3 linked regions of the Homo sapiens genome follow. The protein of the gene in region 3 purifies or fractionates together with the protein of the main gene of each other region. This does not show direct contact. Each region holds a gene or a part of one and is shown on either strand. Other genes may lie near its edges. The genes, in order: TARS1, CA10 and FHOD1.

Region 1 (3,653 bases), on a different chromosome or scaffold from region 3:
TGGCTATGGAACATCACTTAGAAATTACATGTTGTTACTGGCCCAAAACAAAGGTGGTACAACCCGACCCCACAACACAATGACAAAACACGAGGACAAACATCTGTACACTGAAATCAAATGGCAGTACTTGGTTTTAAAGTAATCACTGGGATGAGTCAGAATACACCCAAAGCAATGTTTTCAAGATTTAGTATTAAGGTACCAAAGTGACATTAAAAAATTCTCGTAAGAAACTTGAGGGCTCCAAAATACATTTGAAAACCACTAATCCACATACATAAGTGAACAATCATCACTAAAACAAAATACTTTGTCTCCCCTTATATGATACACAGCCATGGAGAATTAAAAAGAAAATCTTGTCATCACATGCAGGTTGACTTTTATAGTGTTATCCAGCAGATTTGCATCTTAAGATGAGAAAAAAATACAGAAATTATCCAATAAAGGCAGTGCTTTGAAGTAAGGTTCAAATTTATTTGTCAAATGTACATATCTTGCTAGAGTGTTCATAGCTTAGAGGCCAGGCACAGTGGCTCACACCTATAATCCCAGCACTTTGGGGGGCCGAGGTGGGCAGATCACTTGAGGTCAGGAGTTCAAGACCAGCCTGGCCAACATGGTGAAACCCCATCTCTACTAAAAATACAAAAATTAGCCAAGTGTGGTAGTGCGCTCCTATAATCCCAGCTACTTGGGAGGCTGAGGCAGGAGAATAGCTTGAACCTGGGAGGTGGAGGTTGTACTGAGGCAAGAGCGCACCACTGCACTACAGTCTGAGTGACAAAGCAAGACTCCATCATTAAAAAAAAAAAAAATTAAAATAAAATAGTGTTCACAGTTTAGAAAACAATTTTTACTTGCTTAATCAATGTTTAATACAATTCCCAAAACATTTTCCCTATTGAAGTGTCTAGTAATGAAAAGACTTATTCAGCTTCACCCCTTTATTTTCTAAGGCAAGCACTTTTATTATGTTCCCTAAATGAAGGACAAAATGAAGATTTCAAATATGACAGTGAGACAACAATAAATGTTAGCCACCCAATCGCAGCAGGACTGAGCTGGAAAAGACTTCAAATGTGAATCTGCATCCTAAAATTCAATGAATACTAATCAGCAACTTACTGCCTGAGCTTCCTCATCCTCAAACTTGAGAAGCTCCAAGGTACAATCTTCTTCCAGAGGGCGGTCCAGGTCCCACACAACATTATTTACTTTAGCAATAACGGTGTTGTCGGCCAGGCCTTGACTTAAAAAAAAAAAAAAAAAAAAAAGTCCACACATATATAAGTACACACGAATCTAATTTGAAAACAGGAAAATAAACACTATTTTTATTATATATTGTTTTTTTATATTGATGTATCTCTATTTTTCTGAAATATAATGATAAAAACAACAAATTCCAAAAATGTACCTAAGAACCTAACTGGAAGATCCTGAAAATGCAGAACATTATCATTTGACATTGAATGCCTCCTGTTTAAGCAGATATGGCAACTCTGATAAATAAGCACTATCAATTTCCAATGGTTTGAATAATCTTAATTTCTCCAACAAATAAGTTTTTTTTTTTTTAATTTTTTAGCGACAGGGTCTTGCTATGTTGCGCAGGCTGGCCTCCTGGCCTGAAGCAATCCTCCAACATCAGCCTCTAGAGTAGCTGGGACAACTGGCACAAGTCACCACACCGAGTTTTCTCTTAATACACCCACCTTTCTCTTTCTACAAAGCTAAGCTATGTAGACTCCAAAGGAAAAAAAAAAGGCCTACTAAATAACTTCTCTGTTCCTCTTCCTGCTTAAAATGTACACCAGATCCTTTCTTTGACAGACAATGCTAACCTCAGAATAAATTCTGCAAATGCCTATGATAATATTTATAACAAATATAGAGGTAAAATGAAAGACTATTTAATAAAACTTTCCATATAATGTGAGTAAAAACATTACACACCCAATATACAACATCGAACATAAAGTATCATCAAGTGATGAAATATCAGAGCACACAGAGTGTAAAAGCTACAGGAGTTCTGAGGAGGGAAAGCAGTACAGGTCAGAGTCATCTGGAAAGGCTTTGAGGATAAAGCACTCACAGGAAGAAAAGAGGAGGCCATGGCATTCCAGATGAGGGAATGGCCACAGATGCAAGCAGAGATGCAAGTGAAGAGAGGTTTTTGCAGGAAGCTGTGTGACTAGAGCAGAGTTGAGTAGGTGAGCCAGATTATACATCTAAATGCACAGCTAGAGAAATAATAGTCTATAACAGCCTGGACATCTCAACGAAGGTAGGCAACATTCTACACTGTGAAGAAAAAGTATACACCCTTTACACTGTAAATCTCAAAGAAACCTACCACTAGAAGGCTTTAAGCTAGCCAGGCTTGCTGTGTTGGTGGCTCTCTATGTCTAAGGGTTTACAACAAAATGTATACAACTCCTATCTGAGGATCAAGAGAAAAGAACCAAACAGAAAGTAAACAACAAACTCCTTTCTATTTTCAATGCTCCTACTAACTTTACCATAGGTTATAAACAATGTTTTCTTTCCTCCTGAGATCAGATGGAGTCAATAAAATAAATACATGCATTTCACAAAACATAACATGAATTTGGCAGAGAGAAATGTATTTCATCATATTGGTGTAAAACAGTTTTCAGGAGATTAAAGAACTGATAAAAAGGATAATCATATTCTCTATATTCTTTGGGAAGAACATGACTTTTATCTTATGATCCAATATGGAGCCCCAAGATTCTAAGAATAGAGTTACTCTGAAAATGTAGATTACACATGGGCCATACTGGATCATTTCAATTTTTCAAAGAAGGGTAAAATAATCTTTAAGATTTGTAACAAAACGGCCAGGCGCAGTGGCTCACGCCTGTAATCCCAGCACTTTGGGAGGCCGAGGCGGGTGGATCACGAGGTCAGGAGATCAAGACCATCCTGGCTAACACAGTGAAACCCCGTCTCTACTAAAAATACAAAAATTAGGCAGGCGTGGTGGCGGGCGCCTGTAATCCCAGCTACTCAGGAGGCCGAGGCAGGAGAATGGCGTCAACCCAGGAAGCGGAGCTTGCAGTGAGCCAAGATGGCGCCAATGCACTCCAGCCTGGGCGACAGAGCGAGACTCCTCCGTCTCAAAAAAAAAAAAAAAAGATTTATAACAAAACTTCAAAGAAAAACCTTTTGACGCAAATGGAACATGTCTTTTTTGTCCTTCCCTTTCATATTCACCACTAATTATGTGAATCTTTAAATAGCCTGTTATCAATGTTATAATTTTTCACAGAACAAAAAGTTATTCTGGACTTTTGTAAAAATTTCATAAAGTATTCTCAGTGCAGATCAGTGACTTAACTCCAGAGCTAAAGCCCATCAATGTTTTATGTAATTCAACCTTTTATTTTTTTCCCTGGAGACGGACTCTCGCTCTGTCACCAAGGCTGGAGTGCAGTGGCTCAATCTTGGCTCACTGCAACCTCCACCTCCCGAGTTCAAGCTATCCTCCCACCTCAGCCTCCAAGTAGTTGGGACTACAGGTGTGCGCCACCATGACTGGCTAATTTTTGTATTTTTAGTAGAGACAGGGTTTCGCCATGTTGGCCAGGCTGGTCTTGAACTCCTGACCTCAGGTGATC
Region 2 (3,653 bases), on a different chromosome or scaffold from region 3:
TTGTAGACATGCAACAGAAATTTAAAATCCAAAGAAATGTTAGAATTTCAAACAAATTTTAACAAAGAATCCATTGAACCGTTGCAAAGATCCTTAATACAAAAACGAAAGTCACAAAGTGAATAACCATATTAGGACACTTCATATTCTCTCAATTCAATAGCTCCCTAAGTGGGCTCATCCCAACTTTCCAGTATCTCCCAAAGTGAATTTTTTGTTTCAGTTGGGACATTCTTTAGCGTACATCCTCTTGTTTCTATTCCTCCTTTTTGATGATGAGGTCCCCTCTGTCTCTTTCATCCAAACCTCCAAAATCAATCTAATATACTCCTTTTCTTTCATGTCTAAACTTCTCCCTTCTATACAATTTATGCCAATTATTAAACAATTAGACATTATTCCTATTCCTTTATATCACAATGCATTTTAGCATTACAACTTTGCATTTATAATAATATCTTAACAAATAAACATTACTCATATTACTTTATATCATTCTAAACTATGTGTATGTATCTCAACTTTGCTTCTATAACTATATCTTAAGTATGGATCATATATAGTAATGACACAGATGCTTTACACTTGCATAATGCAAAAAATATTTATTCAAGAATCACTCTCTGAAGTTTCCCTCAGCAATGCTTTGAAATAGGCAAAGCAAATATAATTTTTATTTTACAGATGAGGATTGAGATTCTGAGAGGTAAAGAAAACTGCCCAAATTTATAAAGGTAATGAAGGTAGAGTCACGTTGAAGGATAGGTCTTCTGATTTCCATACTCTTTCTATAATGGCTTGCTATCATACACATTTATGATACCTAGATCTCTTTTTGACCTTAGTCCCAAGTATGTAATGCTTAATTAAGGTGATAAACTGAGACATTAGTTACTGACTTAGGCTAGTAATCAAACCCCTCTCCCCAGCCAAGGGACTGGGTATTCACATCAACATTTATTTTTTCCCTTGGGATTTCATACAACTCCAAAAGACTTTCTTGACTCACTATCTGGAGAGTTTTATCTATGATGATGGTTATCTGTCAGTAACTGGGCTATATGACATCACATGGGAAACTGGATTTAAAGAAACCACATTGCTAATGAGATCATCAGATAAATAGTCATTGTAAGGGTGGGGCTTTTTATTTGATGGGACATTCTATTTCAAGCCATATTGAAAGCATATGTCGTTTGCCAGTGTTGAGGCACTTTAAAGTTGGGTCTATACTGCATTGTAATATACAACTGAAAGAAAAATTCGCTGATCCCCTGGGTAATAAGTACTACATGGTTTCCAGGTAGTTTAGTAAACTTTCCAAGCCTCAACTCCATATTGGACTCATAGGGATAAAGTGGGTTACAGTTATGACTATGCACCAAAGCTTAATGCTACCAGTCTCATTTGTATGAGAAGGAAAATTAAGAGACTTTTCAAAATTATTTAGCCAAGGCTTCCTGGAAAATAGGGTTTGTGCTCAATGTTATAGATGTGCTTGCTGATGATGGTTTTCTTTTTGCTTTTAAACAAGTTGATATGGAAAAAGGTAAAAGCTCTACTCCACCATGAACCAAGCCTATACAATGTCAGATTTGTAGGAAATAATGACATTATTGCATGCTTACTATGTGGTAGAAACTGTGCTGTGTGAAAATCATTGGACATAATATCTCATTTAGTTGATAGAACAAACATGTGACACGTGTACTGTTATCTCTTTTCTACACATAAGGAAACTGAAGTTATGCCATTTTAATGTTAAGATTAGGAAAACAGTGTAGGAAATATTCCTTGCTTGTAGAGATTGCTGATCCTAAGATGCTAGAGGCATTTGGGTAATAGCCTCATCTGTTTGATTGACAGGGTAATGTACAACTCAAATGCTACCTTAATTCTAGCTCTAAATTGTAATCATCTAAAACTTTTACTTCCAAATTCTCTAAGACTTCAATTCATTTAACCTAATTTATTCTTTCAGAGACATCAAAATAAAAAATATTAAATAAAAATATTTGAAAGGAATCTTGAACCAAAACATAAATGATATACTGAATTTTGACTCAGGTAGACCTGGATGTGAAACCTCTAGTCTGAAGCTCTGTGGGCTTTGGTTGCTATATCTATAAGATTATCCCACAAATTCTAAGAATAGATGAATTAAATATGTGCAATATATGTACAATGTGTGAAAATACCACATAATTCAAATGGTTATTGATGTTATTATTATGAATAAACTGACAAAGAAGTAAAGTTACATAAGGAGGAAGTAGGATGCATTGTAAAAATTAAATCAGGCAGCTCTCGTTTGACCAAGAAATTTCTCTCCTCGTGCTGCTAAGCATACATTCTTGCTGATCTGAGCTGCTTTGGTAGGAAGGGAATGGTGCTCTTGCAGTACACGGAAAAATCATTCTGGTTCTCTCTCTCTCCCTCTCTCTTTCTGTCTCTGATCTCTTCACAGACCCTGGATGCCTTACATTTTCAGAAAAGTGAGATCTGAGTTTAACGGAAAGCCAGAGGAACTCCCAAATCATGCCCTTTAGCCTAGCTATGTTGCATTAAGTAGCCAAAGCTGATGTGATCTCACAAATAAAAGACATACATGCTACTGACCCAGCATCTAGCTAAGCCTGGCCAAACAGTCTCATTTTCCAACAGTTTCATCAAAACCAAATTATTAGTGCAGAACCACCAAATATGCCAAGCCCAGGTGTCTGTACTTTAAGCAATATATCCAAATAGGCCCAAGGAGAAATTTGGGGGTGGGTTAGAGGAAGTGTTGGAACCTTTGGTTAACAAAACACTAAGCTACAAAGCGCCAATGTTTTCCTGAAAGCAAATGCCACCAAATGAAATTCAGTCAATATATCTTCCACATGACAAAGCTACTACCAACATTTTCCTTCTGTAAAGTGTTTAGACTACAGACTTTTACTAGCCTTTTCCAGCCTGGTGTTTCTCAATAATGAAGCCAACTCTATCAATGCTTCAAGTATCAATGTCTGGTAACTCTGTAAGGATTAGCACCCACTTAGTGGTCAGGAAAATTCATTCCAAGATGCTAAAGAGGTGCTTTGTTTTTAATATTTTTAATTTAAGATTTAGTAGATTCTATGATCACAGGGTTATGTTCCTTTCAATAGAGCTCAGTCATGAGTAAATTAAAACTGCAAATCATGGAGACAGAAATGAAAGATCCACTAAACTCTCTCAAAGCCACAAATATTCAACCTTAGTGCATTGCATTTCCTATACATCCTAAGGCTGCCAGATGGAAAAAGAATGGAGTCTGAGTCTCCCAAACTGTAGCAATTGTGAGTCATAATCATATTACTAATAATAATTCTCACATACATGGGCATTACTGAATGAGTGGCTCTGCTTACAGGAGGATGAGGCCACCCTGACCATGGAGAAGAAATGGCCTTTTAAAGTTTATGGATGTGTAAAATAAAGAGTATATGATGTTGCATCCCTGCCTAAATGTCTTCATAAAGTGCAAATTAATGCAGATCCTAACTAGGCATTTGGAACGCTAACCTAGTTTTCTGTGTTTAGCTAATAGCTAGCAATTTTGCTTACACTTTTATCCTCTCATTACATAGCAATAATGATTATTTAGTAAATACATATGAAAGGCCATGTAC
Region 3 (3,653 bases):
CAGGTAGAGCAGGAAGGCATGGAACCTAGGCAGGTCAGAGTAGGGAGGGACAGTAAGTCCTGCTTATTGTCTGAGGGAGGGTGGTGGCCGTCCTGCCTCTCTTGGGTCCATGCCCCTACCTATTGCAGACACGGCGGTGCACTATCCTTAGCATGGCAACACGGCGGGCACACTGGTCCAGGAAGTGGGTGAGGCGGGCACGCAGGGCTGGGGCCAGCTCATGCTTGGCCAAGCTCCGCAGGCTCTCCTCGGCTGCCCGGCTCCGGCGCTCCAGCTGCCCCAGGTTCTCAGTCAGCTGTTCAAAGTCCACCTGAGAAAGCAAGGGGGTGCACATACTGTCCCCCCACACCCTGTAGACAAGACATGGCCCGAGGCTGCTTCTGGGCCAGAGTGGCCAGCTTGGGCCCTAAGGACACAGACATCCAAATCTCATAGACTAGTGCAAGAGACACAAGTCCATCTGATGTGAATGGGGAGCAGAAGGTTTACTGGGGGAAGTGGCAGTTAAACAGACCCAAAGACTGAGTAGGTGTGGCCAGGCCAATAGAGGAAAGAGCATTTCTGGCAGAGGGCATAGCTCACACCCAGGTGGCTGGAGCAAGCCCTGGCACAGCAGCCCAAATGGGGAGAAGGGGGAGGAGCCAGGCCCAGGAAGCAGCGCTCCTCATGCCTTGTCCGGCCTTGGTTGATTCTGGCAGGTGCTAACCTTGGCACAGCGGGTCAGGGCAGGGATTTCTGAATAGAGGTCAGAGGACTCAGGCCGGGTCTGGAGCACTAGGGAGCAGAGATGGTGTAGCAGTGACTGTCGACGCACCGTGTCCTTCACCTCTGACACCTTCTCCAGGTAGCTCAGCTCAAAGCCGCTGCTCTGAAAGGACCCTTTCTGAGCCTGGGCCTGGTTGGCTCCAGAACCCTGACTCCCCCTAGTCCCCATGTACTCTCACTCACCTGGGAGCCATTGAGGAAGTTGCCCACCGCTAGGAGGGTAGCCAGGATGCAGCGGAAGGTGGCATTCTGTACCAGCTGTTCCATACCCACTTTCAGGTCAAACAGTGGCTCAGCAATTTCCTGGTATGGGAGACCAGGGACTCTCAGACTACATGGTCATGATGCTTACCTGTCCCTACTGACTGTCCCACTCCAAGACCCAGGTACCCGCTCCATGCTGTCATAGTCCAGCTTGAAGGCCCAGAGTTGTAGACGAGCAGCGAGGCCGCCAATGGAGGCAAGAGTCATCAGGAAGTTCTCGGCTGGGCCCAGGGGTATGTCAGGGTTGGCCAGCTGGGCTTCCTCAATCTTCTGCCGCTCTTCCTCCGTGGGCATCATGGTCAGTAGCTTCTGAGGATGTAGCCAGAGCCTGACATGGCCCCCTCAATGCAGGCCTGAGGCCTGAGGCATTGGTCTTGACCCCTCAGTCATCTAGGGGAGGCCCCAGTGTCTGGGGACTGCCCTGCAGAAATGCCAAGCCCATGCCCACCACCAGAGGGACAGGAAATGCCCACCTACCAAAGGAGAAGGCCAGACCTCCCCCCAACACCCATAGCTGGGTGACCTCACCTCAATGCCATCCTTGCTGACAGCAAACTCATCAAAGTTGAGCAGAGCAGCCTTAATGACATGCACAGGTGGCAGTGTGGTTAGGCCGATGTTGATGGCGTTGCTGCGCTTGGGGTCCAGCACTGTGGTCATTGTCCGGCGGCCCTCTCCAGCTTTCTGCATGGTTGGGGGAAGGGCAGTGTAAGACTGAGGAAGGGGGCCTGACGCGGTGGCTCACGCCTGTAATCCCAGCACTTTGGGAGGCCAAGGCGGGTGGACCACGAGGTCAGGAGATCGAGACCATCCTGGCTAACATGGTGAAACCCCATCTCTACTAAAAATACAAAAAAAATTAGCTGGGCGTGGTGGCGGGCACCTGTAGTCCCAGCTACTCGGGAGGCTGAGGCAGGAGAATGGCGTGAACCCGGGAGGCGGAGCTTGCAGTGAGCTGAGATCACACCATTGCACTACATCCTGGGTGACTGAGCAAGACTCTGTCTCAAAAAAAAAAAAAAAAAAAAAAAGACTGAGGAAGGGACTAGCTGGGACAGCAACCTCAGAGGGCACTCCAAGGCCCTCCTCTAGATTGCCAAATGATCCCACAACTGACAAACTGGCAACCTGGAATGTGTAAGTCATGGGGATGAGCTTAGATTCTTTTGAGACAGGGCCTGGCTCTACCATCTAGGCTGGAGTGCAGTGGTGCCATCATCGCCCACTGCAGCTTATCTTCTGGGATTTTCCTGCCTCAGCCTCCCAAGTAGCTGGGATTACAGGCGTGTACCACCATACCCAACTATTTTTTTTTTTAACATTTTTTTTTCCGCCTCCCAGGTTCAAGCAATTCTTTTGCCTCAGCCTCCCAAGTAGCTGGTATTGCAGGCATGAGCCACCACGCCCAGCTCATTTTCATATTTTTAGTAGAGACGGGGTTTCACCATGTTGGCCAGGCTGGTCTCAAACTCCTGGCCTCAAGTAATCTGCCTGCCTTGGCCTCCCAAAGTGCTGGGATTACAGGGGTGAGCCACCATGCCCGGCTAATTTTTTTTTTAACATTTATTTATTTTTATTTATTTAGTTATTTTTGAGACGAAGTCTTGCTCTTGTCCCCCAGGCTGGAGTGCAATGGTGCGATCTCGACTCACTGCAACCTCTACCTCCCGGGTTCAAGTGATTCTCCTGCCTCAGCCTCCCGAGTAGCTGGGATTACAGGTGCCCGCCACCACGCTTGGCTAATTTTGTGTTTTTAGTAGAGACGGGGTTTTGCTAATTTGACCAGGCTGGTCTCGAACTCCTGACCTCAAATGATCCACCTGCCTCGGCCTCCCAAGGTCCTGGGATTACAGGCATGAGCCACTACACCCAGACCAACTTTTAGTAGAGATAATGTCTCACTATGTTGCACAGGCTGGTCTCAAACTCTTGGATTACAGGTGTGAGCCACCATGCCCGGCCACATTTAGATTCTAGTTGGGGCACTGCTGATCCCTTGTTAGGAGACCTTGGACAATTTCCTACTCCTTTCTTTGCCTTGGTTTCCCCATGTGGGAAGTGAGTGACTAGCTCCAACAGGTCAGATCCTTAAGCTCTGATTCCCTCCTGCCTCCCTTGGGGCTACCTTGCAGATGAGTGGATTTACCTTGGAGGGCAGCACCTCTTTGGCACGAGACTCAAAGAGGTGTTCCAGTCGGGCCGTGTCCACTGAGACAGGGTCCAGTGAAGCCCAGAGGGTGGCGCAGGGCCCAAAGCGGCTTGCAGAGACTCCATGGCCCCCAGCCAGCTTCAGCTCACGCCAGAAAAGTTTTACTGTCTTCCTCTTAGTGGGGAGGGCTGAGCTGTCAGGCACTGAATGGGGAAGAGGGGCAGCCAGAGGTAGAGGTGGAGGTGGTGGGAAGGGGCCTTTGATGGGTGGGGGAGGTGGAAGTGGGGGAGGGGGGGGTACTCCCGAGAGCAGGGGCAGTGGGGGTGAGGGAGCTGGGATGTCTTTCCCAGCCTCCACAGACTCTACATTCAGCATGTCCTGGTCTTCATCCTCCCCTAGATCTGAAAAGTCCAGGTCCCCAATAGAGAGCCTGGGTGCACGGGTAGGGAGCTCCCAGATGGGCTCAGCCTTGGGG

The links.
Region 1: the proteins of FHOD1 (region 3) and TARS1 fractionate together in Homo sapiens (co-fractionation; one large-scale study listed by BioGRID). This does not show direct contact.
Region 2: the proteins of FHOD1 (region 3) and CA10 purify together in Homo sapiens (co-immunoprecipitation; one large-scale study listed by IntAct). This does not show direct contact.

The regions. Positions count from the first base shown.
Region 1 is NC_000005.10:33,450,891-33,454,543, reverse strand, and holds part of TARS1 (threonine--tRNA ligase 1, cytoplasmic), read right to left. Parts: intron 2,204-3,653; coding exon of another isoform or gene 2,105-2,203; intron 1,256-2,104; coding exon 1,132-1,255; intron 1-1,131. UniProt on the Homo sapiens protein: Catalyzes the attachment of threonine to tRNA(Thr) in a two-step reaction: threonine is first activated by ATP to form Thr-AMP and then transferred to the acceptor end of tRNA(Thr).
Region 2 is NC_000017.11:52,152,183-52,155,835, forward strand, and holds part of CA10 (carbonic anhydrase-related protein 10 precursor), read right to left. Parts: intron 1-3,653. UniProt on the Homo sapiens protein: Does not have a catalytic activity.
Region 3 is NC_000016.10:67,230,482-67,234,134, forward strand, and holds part of FHOD1 (FH1/FH2 domain-containing protein 1), read right to left. Parts: coding exon 3,176-3,653; intron 1,714-3,175; coding exon 1,558-1,713; intron 1,358-1,557; coding exon of another isoform or gene 1,339-1,357; coding exon 1,156-1,338; exon of another isoform or gene 1,155-1,155; intron 1,069-1,154; coding exon 949-1,068; intron 869-948; coding exon 707-868; intron 311-706; coding exon 120-310; intron 26-119; coding exon 1-25. UniProt on the Homo sapiens protein: Required for the assembly of F-actin structures, such as stress fibers. Depends on the Rho-ROCK cascade for its activity. Contributes to the coordination of microtubules with actin fibers and plays a role in cell elongation.